Linked DNA regions of Homo sapiens: region 2 is linked to region 1. The links come from fine-mapping of genetic effects on gene expression. A gene starts in region 1. The other region holds a variant in brackets. All regions are shown on one strand. Distances are between the middles of the regions.

Region 1 (8,838 bases):
CTGGCACATAAGTTTAACTTAAATCTGTATGTTAACTCGTAGTGACAGTCTACACTTTCACTCCTGTTAACAATCTACACCCCCATGCGTACCATCTTCTAGTCAACAGAACAAAAAGTCATATCTGAGATCTAACAGGCACAAACAACAAAGTCTTCTGAAACAGTTTTGAACAAACTATGGATTTTAACTGTGTGTGTGTGTGCTATAAAGACTGATCGCACTAAATCCATGTAGTTTTATTAAGAAAAGAAAACCAGCAAGTCTTACTAAAAGATCATAAGCCACTTACCAACTGGTCTGGATTAAGATGCTCTCCACTTTTCAGGCGATCCTTATAATCCTCCAGTTTGAGCTACAAAAGAGAAACTTGTATCTACCATAGTCTGACATAAAATTCAGAAGCAAATAAAGTAAATGCCAGATCTTGTCTCTAGGAAACAAAGTCCTTGAAGTAAGCTATCAATCTGCAAGACTATCATTTTACTATACGGCATGCAGCAACTGTAGATGAGTTCCAGTCAGGGGAGAAAAAATACACAGAATCACATGAGTCTGGAATTACAAAACCTAAGCAGTAATAAAACTATTTTCTCTTAATGACTCTATTAATAACTAGACTACTTAACCCATGGGGACTTACCTACTAAATCATGTGTCCCCAACACAGTAGCTTCTCAACAGGGAACAATTTTGTCCCCCAAAGATACCTGGCAATATCTAGGGATATTTTTGGTTATCACAACTTGGGAGGGGGAAGGGAGGTGAAGAGTGCTACCGGTATCTTGTGGTTAGAGGCCAGGGATGCTGCCAAACATCTTAAAATGCACAGGACAGCCCTTTACAACGAAGAATTATCCTGTACAAAATGTCAGTGGTGTAGAGGTTACGAAGTCCTACTCTAATCTCATGCTTAAACTATTAGTTCAGTTACCTGTTGAATTATGTGGCATTTTCCTAAAAAGAAACTCCTATTGGAAGTACAGAAACACCAAGAATTCTTTTCTATCATTATCATAGAGTAGGCTCATCTTGAAGTTATTTTTCATATTATATTTGATACTTAAGGAAATTATGAAAAATAAATTGCATTTGTTGGCCCCATAATAATGACATAAACCCACTATGGTATTTTTTTTTTTTTTTTTTTTTTTTTTTGAGACAGAATTTCACTCCGTTGCCCAGGCTGGAGTGCAGTGTCGCGATCTCGGCACACTGCAACCTCCACCTCCTGGGTTCAAGCGATTCTCCTGCCTCAGCCTCCTGAGTAGGTGGGATTACAGGCACCCCCCACCACGCCTGGCTAATTCTTTTTGTATTTTTAGTAGAGACGGGGTTTCATCATGTTGGCCAGGCTAGTCTCAAACTCCTGACCTCAGGTGATCTACCTGCCTTGTCCTCCCAAAGCGCAGGGATTACAGGTGTGAGCCACTGCACCCGGACCCACTATGGTACTCTAAAAGCATTCTTTAGGTTCCTCCTGTATTGGCTTTAGTGGAAAAATTCTTTCCCAGAAGGTTGAAACAAAAGTACTCGTACTATCTGGTATTCAAAATTAAAGAGGTACTATAGGTAAGCTAGAGAGCATAAGCATACATATATGTAGTTCCTCCACCTGAGGGAGGCTCCGTCAATAGATCCTGCTTTGATCATTTATCACAGTGATGGGGAATTTGTGCTGACCTGGCACACTCACCTTACCACACTTGTGATCAACTGCATACGTTAAAAAGATAAATGGTGAGAGCTACAGAGAAGCTACTAGCAACTTGCCCTTCTTTACTTTCTTAGGTTAAAAAAAAAAAAAAAAAAGAGTCAACCAGACTCTAAAGAGTCTCTTCACACTCCTCCATTAAAAGCAACTTTAAGGTCTAACTAGGTCTTGGCACAAAAGTACTTAACAACACATAGGTCCAGATAGTCACTCAACCTCACCTGTCCAAAAGCAGAAGAGAAACGTAATACAGCAAAGCAACGTGCAGTCTGTTTCACAGGCTACATGACTCAGGAAATGAAGAAGGATTTAGATCTTTACAACAGCATTTTCTGTAGCTAGGCTTAACTCCTGGGTCTCTTTACAAGGCTGACTACCACGCTTTCACCTAGCAATCTTAAATCTTCACCTAACACCACAAAAGTAAGTGGTAAAACATTTTCTAGTTCTACTACGGTTAAACCTTCCAACGACTGCAGCAGTTATACTGCAATATCAACTGCTGCAGAAAGTCACAAGGAAAACAAGCTAAAAAATCAGCTATTAACACATCTATGAAAAGAAACATTAATACTACATAAGGAATTAATCTCACCTAAAATAGCTAGCTCTTAAAGTATTTCAACAGCAGCATGCATAATGTAACTATGAAGAATATTTTTATTCCGTTGTTTTGACAAATGAAACAGAAAATGTTTAATATTTCCAACACGTAACCTGCTTGTTTAAAGCAGCTAAACCTAAGGTTAGTTAAATTTTTAGTAGAGAACACCTATGAGCTCTGAAAGAAAAATGTCAGCTCCTTAATCTTTAAGATCATGCATCTACAGGACTGGAAGAAAAAAAGTTACCTTCTTTTTCTCGATGTTTCTAATTTTGTGTTTAAGGCATATGAGTCCATTTTCAATATAGGTCTCATACGCTTGGGAAGGAGATGCAGCAGAACTCAGAGTAGACTGCAGGGGGCTCAAGGCCCGCTGGCTTTCCCCATGCTGACTGTGGTTCACTTGGGGCTTGGCTGACTTCATATTCCCCTCTCTTTCCTCCTCTGAATGGCCTGAAGGTGACTGGTAACCAAAAGGGGATGAAAAGAGTTGCACCATTGAAACAGATGAGGCTGAAGGAGGTGGGGGAAAGTTAAGTATAAAATTAGGACTAGAGGGACACAGCCAGGCAATAACTTCCCTGGAAAGTCTAGACCACTCCCTTAAACTCTTTTCCACAGAAGTGAGCTCGAAACCCAATGATGCTTGAGATACTTGTACTTCCATCCTACTTTTAAAGTAATTAGTGCCGCTAGCCAATAAGGATAGCCTTTACATAGGCAAAATCTCCCAATACGGAGGATGTTTCCAGAAATTCGATTTTCCACATAGGGAGGAAGAACTGCAACGGCTTCAGAGCTCCTTTCTTCTCATGAGGGCAGATCACATTCTAAATAATTCCCATGGCCACGTGATGACACCAAAAGAATAAGCTTTCCACACCGGGACCTAAGGCTGAGCCACTCAAACCTCTTTACATGATCCCTCACCACCAGCCCTAACCTCAATCCTGAACGTTTGGAAGAAAATCCAAACTCACAACATTCTTTTATAGCTCTAAGTGAACCAGCAGCTTCTTGAACAAGAATGCTAACTTCCCCGATTGCTCTGGGGCCTACAAGGCAATCCATCACTACTGGACATTTGCAGACAGGTACTCTCTCAACCTGCAGGAACCCCGCGTTTATTCTCAGTTGTTTGGTTTAGACTAGCCCAAAACCGCTTACACCCAACCAGTTTAAGAGCTCATTCTAGCGAGCCCTTCCCGTGCCCTAATCAGTGGCCCTTGCGCACTTACGTATCCGTCTCTCGACCTCCAAGCACCCGAGGTATCCCTTTCTCCCCCCTTAGGAGCATCCCCAAACCAAGGACAGAACAGGCCCCATGCACGCCAGCGCGCACCCCCTCAAGTCTCCGGGGGAGCCTGAGCGAAGAGCACCTCTCCCGAGCGGCCACGGAGAGCCCTGCAGGCACCGACCCCCACCCTTCCCACAGCCGCCCCGGGTACGCAGAAGCCGCTTCTGCAAGGCCCCGGGGGAGGCTGACCTGCGGAAAACGCACCGACCGCGGCCCTCGGGAGCCCCGCCCCGCCCCGGGGATGCCAAGCCGCCCCTCCACCTCGCAGCGGCGCCGGCCGCCCAGACCTGCCCACCCTCGCCGGGTCAGCCGCCTCCCTCCGCCGCGCCGACCGAGGCCGCCGCAGCCCGACTTCACCTCCCCAGGCAGCCGAGGCCGCCGCTGCCGCAGCCCGGGCCCGCCTTCCAAAGCCTGGGGGAGGCAGGAGCGCTGCGGAGGTGGACCGGCGCCACCCCGCACTCGCGTCTCCTCCTCCTGTCTCCTCCCTCTCCCCTCCCGGTCCTCGCCCGCGGCCTCTGCGGCGCCAGAGACCCAGCCGACTCAGCCGCTCGCGCCCAGGCCCGCCCACCGCGCCGCGCGTGGCTTTTGTAGGCCGCGCCCCGCCCCGGCCCGCTCCGCCCTCGGCCGCCCCGCCACCGCCTCCTTCCGGTGCTCCTTCCCGGCTGCAGCTGGCCGCCAGCGCTTGTCGGGTGTTAGTTCCGGGCCCAGCTTGGGCTGGTGGTAGGTCGGGAGAGGGCGCGGTCTCCCAGCCTTTGCGCAGATTGCGGGGCACCAGGTGGGGCCGAGGCGACGCCGAACGCCGGCAGGCCGGAAACCGCGCAGCCCCGCTGGACCTCGCTGATTGCCGGCGGCACCGGTGGTTTCGCGACCTTGAACAGGTGACTCCAATAGCTCCAGGAGGGCAGCGAGCCCTTCGCGGAACTACCAGATAAGCCATGCTTGAGGCTGTCGTAGCCTAGTGGGTAGTCGTGAAATGCAGATGCGCCTTTGCCCCTCAGATAGCATCTTTCATAGTAGGATGGGGAAAAAACACCGTTTCCTTACCGGGGAATCAGCCTGTAAGAGCAGAATGCCCCAAATCAGCATCGCCATAAAAACGGAGTAGGTGACTTCGCAACCTGCAATAATAGGATTGAGTTTATTCAAGCCGTATTATTTGTTCATGTGACACACATTAATTGACTGGCACGCAGAGAAAGCTGTAAAAAATCTTTGTAAGGTTACATAAAATTAAGAGAAAAGTCTGGAAATATGTAAAAGTTTATTGAGGAAAGGAAGGTGTTTCTGATACCAAATAAGAAACACACACACACACTCAGCAATACTTTGCCCCAACATGTGTTTACTTATTACACCAAGTGGAGTTTTTTAGGTCCTGATTGTCCCTGACGCTCTGATAAAAAATATTGAGACTAGCAAAAGAACAGAAAATTCAGAAGAAGAATCAAGGAAACAAAGGTCTAGTTTTAAAAGCCTTGGTCAACTTCACACAAATTAATTTTAACATTACTTAATACATTTTTTTGGCATCTATTATCCGTGTTCTTTTCGGTCCCTGGTGACATAATGTACCCTAATGTTGCATTTTAACTTTGAATCTCTGAATCCCATATGTGTTCTTCAGGGTCAGAGAAATACTAGATTTTCCCTTTTTCTCATTGTTTATAAACAGAGAAACGCAGAAGATGCTGAACATGAGGAGAGGAAGGCTATGCCTTCACCTTTGGTAACACAAAAAACAGTGGCCATAAGAAAAAATGTGAAGGACACACTGTTGGATCAATGAGTTGACACAAAGTTACAGCACAGCCTGAGTTGTAGTCCGAGCTAATGATGAACCTAAAAATGGTATTTCAGTCAGATTAATCATGAAATGTTTGCCCCCTGCCGGCGCAGTGGCTCAAGCCTGTGATCCCAGCACTTTGGGAGGCCGAGGCGGGGTGGATCACCTGAGGTCGGGAGTTCGAGGCCAGGCTGGCCAGCGTGGTGAATATCCATCTCTACTAAAAATACAAAAATTAGCCGAGCATGGCGGCATGTGCCTGTAATCATGGCTACTCAGAGGCTAAGGCAGGAGAATCGCTTGAAACCCGGAGACGGACGCTGCAGTGAGCCGAGATTGTGCCGCTGCACTCCAGCCTGGGTGACAGAGCAAGACTCTATCTCAAAAAAAGAAAGAAAGAAAGAAATGTTTGCCTTCTAATCGGTCAGGCAAAAAGGAGGCCGTAAATTTTAAATTTTCTACTAAATGGATATTCTTCTAAATGAATAAATCCATACAGATTTACTTCTCAGGAAGGATTATAAAAATGCATCACGAAAGAATGCAAAAGCAAAAATAATTGAATTTCAAGTCCAGTAGGGTACAGTCTGTATACGTATGGCGTGACATTTGTAGGAGAACATACCACAGTAGATACTCTTGAAGCAATGTCTTCTGAACAAGTTAAAAAGATGATTCAGATAAAAGCTTTTCTGCTAGAGGAGATCTTTAAAGTCAGTAAGTCTGGCTTACTTTGAAAGCACATGTCCCCAAAACTTTTATTTGTCAGGAGTTTAGTTTATTTTACCCTCTCCCACTCCCTATTTTCTGTAAGACCGTGACTTTTCTTGCCAACTGTGAGGCAGTATCTGTGGCATGCCACCTCCAAGCTTAGCAAGGAATAACTATATTGGAAATATGATAAAAAGTGTTGTCTCGAATCATTGATAGAAGAATATATTCATTTATTCATTCAACAGATGTTTACTTAGCACTTGCTATGTAGTAGGTGATAAGGCATAATGGTGACTGAGACAATATAGCTTCTGCCTTCGTGGAGCTAAGTGGGAATTCAGTAAAAGCTATAGATGTAAATGGCAAAAACAACCAAATCAAAAAACCCGAAGACAAAAATACTAAAGACTTTAATAATGGATGGTTTGATTTCTACAAAAACAGCCAGACTTTACGTCCTTTGAAAATGTGAAGGTGTTAAATATGCACTGTCTGACAAATGTTCAATTGCTGCAGGGATGGTTATGCTGTAGTCACTTAAAATTAATATAGCTTCATATTGTTGAAACTGGAAAGATAAATCCACCAAAGGATGTGAAACCTGGTAGCGTGTTAGTAGAGATATGAGAAATTATCTTAGACACATGGTTGTGGGTGATAGAAGTCTGTTTCTTATTGGCTCTACGAGACTTTGTGGAGAATTGCCACCAAGAGACAGAGAGAGAGGGAGAAAGTCACCAAGAAAAATAATAAGAAGGCTAAGAAAGAAAAAGACAGGAACAATAACATAAGGTTGTTAAAAAGATAGTACTTTTGGCCGGGTGTGGTGGCTTAACGCCTGTAATCCCAGCACTTTGGGAAACCAAGGCAGGCAGATCACCTGAAATCAGGAGTTCAAGACCAGCTTGGCCAACATGGCGAAACCCCATCTGTACTAAAAATACAAAAATCAGCCGGGCATGGTGGTGCGCCCCTGTAATCGCAGCTACTTGGGACACTAAGACAGAAGAATCGCTTGAACCCAGGAGGAGAAGGTTGCAGTGAGCCAAGATTGCGCCACTGCACTCCAGCCTGGATGACAAGAGCGAAACTCTGTCTCAAAAAAAAAAAAAAAAAAAAAATATATATATATATATACAGTACTTTCACATACTTGCTGATTCATAGAGTGTCTATTCAAATATTTGAGAAACTTTTTATGAAAGTAAAGAACTGAGAAATATAGACCTCAGGTAGGAAAAAAAACTTGCCATAATAGTTTAGGGTATTTTTAGAGAAATATCTAGTTTGTAAGATTAATAATTTGGTAGGCTTATTTTTTCATAAAATTATACATTCCTATTGGTTTTGTTGATACTGTTTTTCTGATATTGAAGTTAATGCATTAATAGTGCTCCACCATTAAGTACCTTTGAAATAAAAGTTCTTTAGAGGAGGAGTAATCAGTGTAGAACTTATGAATGTGTGTCATTAAATCAATAATATCAAGCCCATAAAAATATGATTTCTGTCCAACTTTGAAGTATTATAAAGTGTCAACAGCATGGGCTTTGGAGCCAGACACACATGGATTGGATTCTTGTTCCTGCCCCTTACTAGCTGAATGATCTTGGGCAAGTGACTGAAATTCTGTGGGCTTCAGTTTTTTCAGCTGTAAAACTGCTGATAATAAAACAAACATAATATTACCTATTAACAGCATTGTTAAGGATTTCATTTCGTTTCTGTAAAAGCATCTGACTAGAGACTAGGCCATGAAAACATATCCTCCACTGAGATACCTGTATTTGCTGCTTTTGCCATAATACGAAGCCCAGCATTTCTCCTAGTAGCCAAGGAGAACTAGAGAACTGTGGAATTTATGGCTAAGGAATCCCACCCCCCCGCCCTTATTTGAAAGACAAGGTATATAAAGCTGGTGGACATTTGTGAGTTTTCCAAGACCTAAAGAATCTAGGTCTTCTGCCCTCTAATGCAACATGCACTCCAGGCCGCTTCATCCCTTTCCCTTGCTGCTTCCATGGAGTAAATAAAGTATAGAAATAGGCAATTAAACTTGAAGATTGAAACCAAAAAGAATAAGCAATTCAGTGTTACAGTGTCTTCAAAGGAATTCATTCAGAAAGACATTTTAAAATATTCATATCTTTTGATCCAGTAGCCTTTATTTTAGGAATCTCCCCTATCAAAATAATCAGAGATGCAAACAATCACTTATTTATGAAAATGCTAGGCACCACATTTTTTTAAGTGGTGGGAAATTGTAAACAACAACCTAGACACTCAACAATAGAGAAATGGCTAAATAATGTGACTCTAAGCCATGAATTTTAATTCAAGTAGTACAAATCATCTTTTCAAAGAATATTCAATGACATGATATTATATGAAGTGAAAAAAGGGCAGGATAAAACACGGTATAAAACATTTAGTAAGATTGTGACTTTGTAAAATATTTCATTTTAAATATGCATGGAAAAGGCTGAAAGATGTTTTCACTTTATTTTTATAGCATATGTTTAGTTTTTATACCAAACCAGAAAAAGTATTTTCCCAAAAACATGAAAGCTGCCCCCTCCACCGATTACCATTATTAACTTTTTGCTTATATTCTTCTAGACTTATTTCCAAGAAAATATCTGTATAATTTTTTACAAAAATGGGAATGTACTAAACATTTTGCAATTCTGCTATTTTGACTTAAAATATAATGAGCATCTTTTTAT
Region 2 (8,838 bases), 41 kb after region 1:
GCTTTAGACTACTATTACCTTTTTGTTTGACAAATTTCTTATTTACTTCTGGGGCTAGCTAGGTTCCTGGAATTTCCCTTTAAGGAACTCCAGATTTTTCTTTATTTCCATGCTTGGGGTTTTCAGGCCTCTAGAGAGGGGGCTCCTGCTCCATCTCACCCCAATGCCCTCAGTAATCTCGCCCCTTGCTTTCCTCTCTAATTCTGTTTTTATATCATTCTCCCTCTTACTAGCAGTTCTAGCCACACGGGTTTTTAGCTGTCTAGTCGTTTTTGTTTGGCACCCTACAAATAAATGCTTTTCCTTCTATTGCTGCAAAACTTCACTGTAGATATCTGGTTTTACTGTACCGGGAGAGCAGACCCAAGTTTGGTTCTATAATAGTAATGTAATTTTCATCTATTATAAGTCAAAAGATATCATATCTATTTGTAAGTCAAAAGATATTCATTTGTTTAGGGAAGAAATAGTGGACATCTTCCTCATAATTTAATTCCAATGTAGAATTTACATTAACCTAACATTTTTAATAATGTTAAAAATTCATTAAGAATCTTCTTTAGATACTAAGGCACATCTTATTCTGTCCAACAAATTCCTCTCCAACAGTCATCCCTAATTTCTTCACTTTGAACTGCCAACCACCCATTCTTTAAAAATAGTAGGATAAGAATACTATTTATGAGCTTCCTGTTTGTGAATGGCATTACATGAAAGATCTTGCAAAAATCAGAGGAGAATATTCATGACAATGAAGATGACAGTGAGAGCAGCTAATATTTATTGCTCCTTTTCCGCACCAGGCATCACACTAAGCACTTCATACATGTATCTCATTTAATCTTGACAACAATCCTATGAGCTAAGTACCCTTATGCCATTTGTACTGATGAAAGCACTAAGGCCCAGGGAGGTGAGCTAAGTGGCCCAAGGTCCCACATAGCAAAGACTTATACCACGCAGTTTTGCTCCAGAACCCATGCTCTTAATTGCCGCTATGCTGCCTCTCTAAATAATAAAAATGGGACACTTCCAAAAGGTAGGCCACTATTCTCTATCCACAGTGGTAAAGGTTAAAAAGAGAAATGAAAGATTATATTCAATTCTGTGCATTCAGTGAACATTACTGAATGCCTGATAAAGAAAAGTAGGCTTTGATGTTACATGCATAGCCCTGCTCTGACCTGCACTAGCTGCTGATCTCGGGCCAATCACCCAGCCTCTAATAAACAGGTTAATCATGCTGACCTCATAGGGTGTTGTGAGCATGGGATGAAATGTGAACCACTGGCACAGTGCCTGGCACAAATAACACAGCTTTGTACACTCTGGAAGAGTGGTGTGGCTGAAAGTAGCTTCTGGCAACCAGAAGATAAAAGGGTTAAACCAAACAGTTGTTCTAACACTACAGGTCAAAATAGCAAGTGCTCAGGAAAAAAGAATTTGTGATGAAACACATTCTGTCTATAAAATTGTGTGTAAACATTCACAGTGACCAGCTCCAAGTTGCTGCTGTCTTTCCTTACAGAGATTCCTCTGGATGACAGTCATGGGAAATGGCAAGAAAGACAGGTAGGGAAAGGGTAAGCCAAACGACTGCCCAGGAAATGCAATTACTGATGCTTTCTCCAGTATTGATTTTTGTGGGAACATCAGAGTTATCTGGGTTTTGAGGTGCTAACCCCAGGCAGCCAGAACCCGTGCTGGGGCTGGTCTCAGCTTACCAATGCTTTCCAAGCAGAGCTAACCATTCATTGCTTTATTCATGCATTGCATTCTTTTGTTCTTTCATTCAACACTTATTTATCAAGCCCCACGTCCTGTGCCTGCAGCCCTGAGTCAGCAACAGAGCAGGCCTGCAAAAGCCTCCTCTCTGTCTCAGAATAGAGTCATGGAGGGCTAAATCTAACTGGGCTTTCAATAGAAATTTATAATCTGGAAGGTGGTGCAGGCTCACTTTAAGAAGGCTCACTCAGTGCCTTCATGGTGGAATTGAGGAAACCCAGACCCAGGCAGCAACTCCCCAAGATTGCAGAGATAGTAAGCAGTGAAGTTGGTATGCAAATCCAGGTCTTCTGAAGCCACATCTGTAAGCCCCTCACTATATCACTACAACACCAGGGAGAGAGAGAGAGCCCGGGGTTTCTTTCTCTTGAAAACGACCAGTCACTGGAGCAGAGCTGTTTGCCCATGGAGATGAGTTTTATGTGAGCCAGGTTTACAAAGAGTAGAGTGTGGCTGGGCACGGTGGCTCACGCCTGTAATCCCAGCACTTTGGGAGGCCGAGGCAGGCAGATCACAAGGTCAGAAGATCAAGACCATCCTGGCTAACATGGTGAAACCCCATCTCTACTAAAAAAATACCAAAAAATTAGCCAGGCGTGGTGGTGGGTGCCTGTAGTCCCAGCTACTTGGGAGGCTGAGGCAGGAGAAAGGCTTGAACCCAGGAGGCGGAGCTTGCAGTGAGCTGAGATGGCACCACTGCGCTCCAGCCTGGGTGACAGAGCGAGACTCTGTCAAAAAAAAAAAAAAGGGTAGAGTAAGAAGAAAGAAGAGTGGAAGATTGCAGACAAATATGGCCAGCAAGCATCTCTCTCCAGCCCTCTCTGGAGCCACGCTGTGCCCCTGCTCATGACTTTCAGTTGCTTCACTATGCAATGAAAGTCAAAGCCCAGTTCCCATGCCACACACAGAGGAGTCCCTATCTCCTTTTCTGGCATCTTTTCTCACATTCCTGCCACACAGATTCTCCACTCTAGCCACATACCTTATCCTGTCCCACCCAAGGACCTTGGCTTCTACCATCCGGAAGTCTTCTGCCAACCCCAGGGCTGTCCAAATGCCTTTTCTTTTTCTTTTCTCTTTTTTTTTTTTTTTTTTTTTGGAGACAGAGTTTTGCTCTCGTTGCCCAGGCTGGAGTGCAGTGGCGCCATCTTGGCTGACTGCAACCTCCGCCTCCTGGGTTCAAGCGATTCTCCTGCCTCAGCCTCCCAAGTAGTTGGGATTACAGGTACCCACCACCACGCCCAGCTAATTTTTTGTATTTTTTTTAGCAGAGACAGGGTTTCATCGTGTTGGCCAGGCTGGCCAGGCTGGTCTGGAACTCCTGAAGTTAGGTGATCCACCCACCTCAGCCCCTCAAAGTGCTGGGATTACAGGCGTTATCCACTGCGCCCCACCCCAGATGCCTTTTCTATGAAGTATATCCCAGTTGGAAGTAATTTTTGTTTACCCTGGATTTCTGTACATTCACTGATTGTGCAAAGAGCTTGCCACAGGCGGCCTTGCAAGATAGTTCTCTACCTTCAAGCCTTACTTCCTCCGAAATGAGTTAGGTCCCATGACATTAGAGCCTTCGGGATATTTCTGTACAGTTCTAGTTCCTAGCATAGCGCCTTGTATTCTTTAGGTACCTGACAAATGGCCACCAACCCTCCACCGGAGAGGACTTTTTACCAAGCCTGCAGGAAGGGCCAGCTAGGCAGGCGTCTCCCTGCTTTGCCCAACAGTGAAAGTCACAGCACATTTCTCAATATTATTCACGTTAAAAACATCTTTTTCCTGCTAAATAGACACACTCTCCACCCTCTTTTAGTCAATCTTCCACAAAATTAGATAAGGAGAAATAACCCTTTGTTTCACATCCGCTGACTCAGATACGAGCATTATTCAACTGG[G/GT]CGGGGGTGGCAGTGGATGGGAGGGGGCTGAGCAAACTACAAGTGGAGGAAGAAGAGGACAGCCTAGGAGAGGGAGGGCAGAAGAAAGGAGAGCACATTGTGCAGGGGCACAGTGTTTTGCTGCTCCTTTTTTTCTTTCTTTTCTTAATATGGTCCTGGCTCACAGCAAGGCCACTACCTGACAAGCAGATGAGTCACTTCCTATGGGCACAGCGGGGGTACAACTTGATAGCTACAAAACCAGACAACCTCTCGCCATGCGCTCACCCTGTTCCCAGACCCGGGTGGTGGTCTGGGGGGTTGGAAGGGGCGGGAAGGGCGCTGTCTTAAGAATCATCCTCACATCTCAGGGCTTCGCCCCTCGAGGGAGGTGACCCTTGGCCACCCTCTGCGCAGTTCTCCCTGAAAGGTCATGCCACGTCTTAGCACTCTGGTCCCTGCGCCCCTGCAGGCCTCGCGGATCCCCCACTTGTCTCGACGCAGGGGACGCCCACTTGTCTGACGCAGGGGACGTGGCTGAAGTCAGTCGGGCCGCCCGCTTGCTGCACGGCAGCCGTGGGACTGGCACAGGCTCCTCGGCAGCATTATGGGCAGCTGGTAGAGCGGCCACTTCTGAGAGCCGGATGGGCCTTCCGAGGTCGGGCCGTGCCCCGCTGGGCAGCGCAGAGGGGGTGTGTAGGGCACGCGACTTGGAGCCAGGTCCAGACCCATCCTGGCTCCTCTCAGGGCTCCTTCCCCTGCCCCCATTCCACCCCAGCCCTGCTGGCTGTCCCGCAGGACCCAGCGCCGCGGTAGCCTTCTCTGAACTGCGGCTCAGGCGGAGGTGTCACTCCTGCCTCCAGCCCAGGAGGGCAGGTCAGGTTATGCAACGCGTGCCGCGCGATCTCCCCCCACCTCCAACCCCCTTTTCTCCCGGGTCCACACCGCAGTTCCCACCGCTCCGGGTGTCCTCCCCAGTGCGCCGCGATTTTTGTGTCCAAGCCCCAGAGTCCCTCTGAGACCAACCCCCAGCCAGCACAGACTTCCTGCCTTCCCAGCTCGGGTGAGTAGCCCTGAAACGCCCGCCCCCGCCGCCCCGCGGCCGCAGCATCCTCTCGATGGCCGCGCCTCCGGGACGACGTGGTCCCCTCGAGTAGTACAGGAGCTGCAAGAGAGGCGCGCCGGGGCCAGCAAGCTCTAGAACAGCAGGAGCGGCCCCAGTTGGGACCCCGGGACGACGAGTGGCCGGCAACGCGGCGCCCGCATGGCCCAAGCAGTGTCCGGGAGGGGTCGGGGCCCCGGACTAGGGGCGCAGCGAGGACCGCCCGGAGGCTTTCCCTTGGGCAGCTAAGTCCGAGTCAGCTCTACTCGGATTTCCAGCTTCCAGCCCCGGCTCTGGTGGGGACCATGCCTAGGAGAGTAATCTGAGCTGGGGACTGGGCTCTCCTCCCGCCCCTCCCGGCCCGTGCGCCCCAGGCATGCGCTCCTCCCGCTGCTCCCTTGGCCCCCAGCGCACAGCTCCAAACCCGCGGGGCGAGCCGTCACCTTACTCTCTAGCCTTAGCCGGCCCCCAAATTTAATTTCTGCCCTGGCCGTCAAGCCATAAAAGTCGATTATAATCGCCGCCCCCCCCCGACCACCCCAACCCCCTGCCTTTGCTCTCGCCCCCGTTTCAGACTTCTCTTCTCTTCTTGAAGTCAAGCCCTCAAGTCGGGACTCTAGGAAGTCCGTTTTCTTCGTCCTAACCCCTTTGTATCCTCTCCCATCCCCACCCCTTTCACTCTGCCCTCTGGCTCTGATTTCTCGGCCTTTCCGTTTTTTCTCTCCAGGTAGAGACAGCTCCGGGCCGGGGGTGGAGGATGGTGCGGTGGGGAGGAGGCAAGGAAATTCCCAGCCTTCCTGCGCGAACCTGGGAGACCAGCAGGCACCTGGTCTCGTCCCGCTGGGTCCCCTCCGCACCCAAGACTGTCTTCCCAAGTGGCTTACTCCACAGAAGGAATGTCGTCAGCTGATTATATCTGATTAGCATCCAGTTCCGACGACTCATCCCTTAAAACGTATGCTGCCTGCATCCTCTTCTCTCTGGACCCTCCAGGACGATACCAAGTCGGGCACGCGTTTCCCCTCTTCTAGGTTCCTGCCAGCCTCATGGCCAGTCCGGGGCTTCGAGCCTCCTCTTCCCTAGTTCATCCTACATGCTCCGGCCACATTTGCCTTTGGTAAACTGCACTTTTTTTTTTTTTTTTTTTTGAGATGGAGTTTTGCTCTCATTGCCCAGGCTAGAGTGCAGAGGTGCAATCTCGGCTCACTGCAACCTCCGCCTTCCGGTTTCAAGCAATTCTCCTGCCTCAGGCTCCCAAGTCGCTGGCATTACAGGCGCCCGCCACTAAGCCCAGCTAATTTTTTTGTATTTTTAGTAGAGACGGGGTTTCACCATGTTGGTCAGGCTGGTCTCGAACTGCTGACCTTGTGATCCACCCGCCTCAGCCTCCCAAAGTGCTGGGATTACAGGCGTGAGCCACCGCGCCCGGCCCGGTAAACTTTTTATCCTCTTCCTCCTGAACCCATCATCATCTTCATTTCCTTGTCTGTTAAAGTCTGCCTCTGCCTGGCATTAACACCATGGAATCTAGACTCACATGGCCTTTCCCTTGCATATTCCACCGGCCGGGAGAGGATCTCCCAGATCTGGGGCAATGGGGCTTCTCACTGTCCAAAACGCTCAAGGCCTTTGCCCCCTGCTGGCATTAATGAAATTAATGGGCTTTTTCTTCCTAATTAGTTCACGTATCTGTGAATATTGCTTATTCCTATGAGACAATACTCAGCATTTTAACATATTTTAGATGTAAGCCTTAAAGTACCTTGTTTCCATAAATAATTATGACATTAATTTTTTATCACTATGTTACTCAATTCTTTGAACCCTTTCTAAGTTATATGCCAAAAATCACATAGCCATCCGTCACTAATTTTTTTTTTTTTTTTTAGGGATGTGGTCTCATTAGGTTGCCCAAGCTGGACTTGTACTCTTGGCCTCAAGAGGTCCTTCCATCTCAGTCTCCCAAGTAGCTGGGACTACAAGCATGCACCACTACACTCAGCCAAATACTTTCAATAATTTGCCAGCTGACAACTTGATTGGGTTCTCCTTCAGGTTTGGTAAGGCAATATTTGGAACTCACCTGATTTACTATATATTACACACACACAAATGCACATATATATCGATATATAGATACATATGGTTACCCAGTGGTCAGAGTCCCCATCAGACACCAGTATTTGGGATTATTCTTTTGTCTGGTGCCTAGGGTTTTTTTTCATACCCCAGTGTTGGTGAGAGGCCTACCTTTCTTCTGAAAGTGGGAGGACAACTATGAAAAAAGCATGGGAAAGGGGATGAGCCTCCACCCACACCTGACACCTTAACAGCTGTACCTTTACAGGCAGGTCAGTTTCTGGAATAGGACATAAAATGTTGAGATTCTGAAGATTCATTCTCTTCAAGCCAGCCTCCGCAAATTTTTTCTGTAAAGTGTCAGATAGTAAATATTTCAGGCTTTGCCAGCCATATGGTCCTATCCCAACTCTTTAACTCCAACCTTGTAGCAGCCATAGACAATATGTAAACAAAAGATTATGGCTATGCTCCAATAAAACTTTAATTATGGACACTTATATTTGAATTTCATGTGTCCCCAAATATTACTTCCCTTTTGATTTTTCCCCCAACCATTAAAAAATGTAAAAACCATCTTAGCTCCCTGGGGGGTACAGAAACAGGCAGCAGCTTTCGTCCATAAGCCCTAGTGTGCTGACCTCTACCAAAGTATTCGTGTCAGCATGCCCCATGGAAAGTCTTCAGGTAACCTCAGGGAATGTGTACTCTCATTTGAAATTACTATCCTGGTTCTCAACTCTGGCTACATATTAGGATCTCACGGGGTGCTTTAAAAACTACCATTGCTGGCCAGGCGTGGTGGCTCATGCCTGTAATCCCAGCACTTTGGGAGGCCAAGGTGGGTGGATCACCTGAGGTCAGGAGTTCGAGACCAGCCCAGTCAACATGGTGAAATCCCATCTCTATTAAAAACACAAAAAATTAGCCAGGCGTGGTGGCAGGCACCTGTAGTCCCAGCTACTCGGGAGACTGAGGCAGGAGAATCACTTGAACCCAGGAGGCAGAGGCTGCAGTGAGCTGAGATCATGCCACTGCACTCCAGCCTGGGTGGCAAGTAAAACACCGTCTGAAAAAAAAAAAAAGTACCAATGCCAAAATGCTCAACCCCACTCTTTCATACTGATTCAGTTGGTCTGGAGTGGGATCTGGGCATAAGGTAGTTTTAAAAGTTTCCCAGGTGATTCTAATATGCACCCTGACCTTGGTCCAGTGTCCTAATTGCTGTAGGCTTTGCACACCTCTCAGGGCACAATGCTGCTTTGTGTTGTAGTTACTGTATTTCATCCAGTCGAAGGTGTCATGATTGTAAGATGAAGTCCCATTTTAGAAATCTTAAAATGTAAAAAATATAGGTGTCTTGGGTGAAATGTAATTTTGCCTTGTCTACAAGATTGATCCCCCCTGATGGCAAGGAGCCTGGCTTCCTCCCTCCTGTGTTGCTTTCTCACCATTCACACTTAGCTGAATGTGAGGTGTTCAGTGAATGCTTGCTGAATGCTTATCAACTTTGGGTTGCTTTGTTTATTGCATGTGCTCTGGATTCTTACTTTTCTCTTCACTTCTCTTCCCTGACAGAAGCGCCCTCGAGAAGTGTCTAAAGGAGACAGTTGATAGCCAAACAACAGTTTTGGATTCACTGACTGATTATGAAAGAAGCAGTAGACTGGTATCAAGAATCAGTCAGGTAGGAAATGGAGCACTTGGTGGTGTCTTTGGCTATGGGAAAAAGGAAATGCCCACTGATCCCATTCCTGGAAAATGGGAGAGGAGACAGAATACCCTTCACAATGAGGAAAATGGGATTAGGAATTAGTCTCTGATTGACTGATATTTGTGTCTCCATTATCTGAAATCATGCCGTTTGTTTGAATTGTTTTTTCCAATATGTGCGCTGCTGGTGTTAAGTCTGAATGAAGGAAGGGACTGGGAGTCATTTCCTAACATTGCTATGGTTTGAATGTGTCCCCTAAATTTCATGTCTTGGAAACTTAATCCCCA

The links. PIP is the estimated chance that this variant, and not a neighbour inherited with it, causes the effect.
Region 2: its variant is fine-mapped to the expression of CAPRIN2 in fibroblasts (GTEx, PIP above 0.99). The same link has a PIP of 0.9 or more in atrial appendage, left ventricle, subcutaneous fat, tibial artery and tibial nerve.

The regions. Positions count from the first base shown.
Region 1 is chr12:30,750,779-30,759,616 of GRCh38, forward strand. CAPRIN2 (caprin family member 2) reads right to left here and starts at 4,173. Exons shown (of 19, transcript NM_001385503.1): 1 at 3,973-4,173; 2 at 2,566-2,781; 3 at 293-355. The coding sequence starts at 2,742. LOC645485 (a long non-coding RNA gene) reads left to right here and starts at 4,296. Exons shown (of 2, transcript NR_135046.1): 1 at 4,296-4,493. RefSeq lists enhancers at 3,547-3,626, 3,630-3,799 and silencers at 3,727-4,406, 5,498-5,701.
Region 2 is chr12:30,791,498-30,800,335 of GRCh38, forward strand. LINC00941 (long intergenic non-protein coding RNA 941) reads left to right here and starts at 4,184. Exons shown (of 5, transcript NR_040245.1): 1 at 4,184-4,719; 2 at 6,648-6,818; 3 at 8,416-8,524. RefSeq lists enhancers at 1,467-1,968, 2,470-2,971, 2,972-3,471, 3,974-4,473, 4,474-4,975. The variant G/GT (reference allele first, on the strand shown) is at 3,678.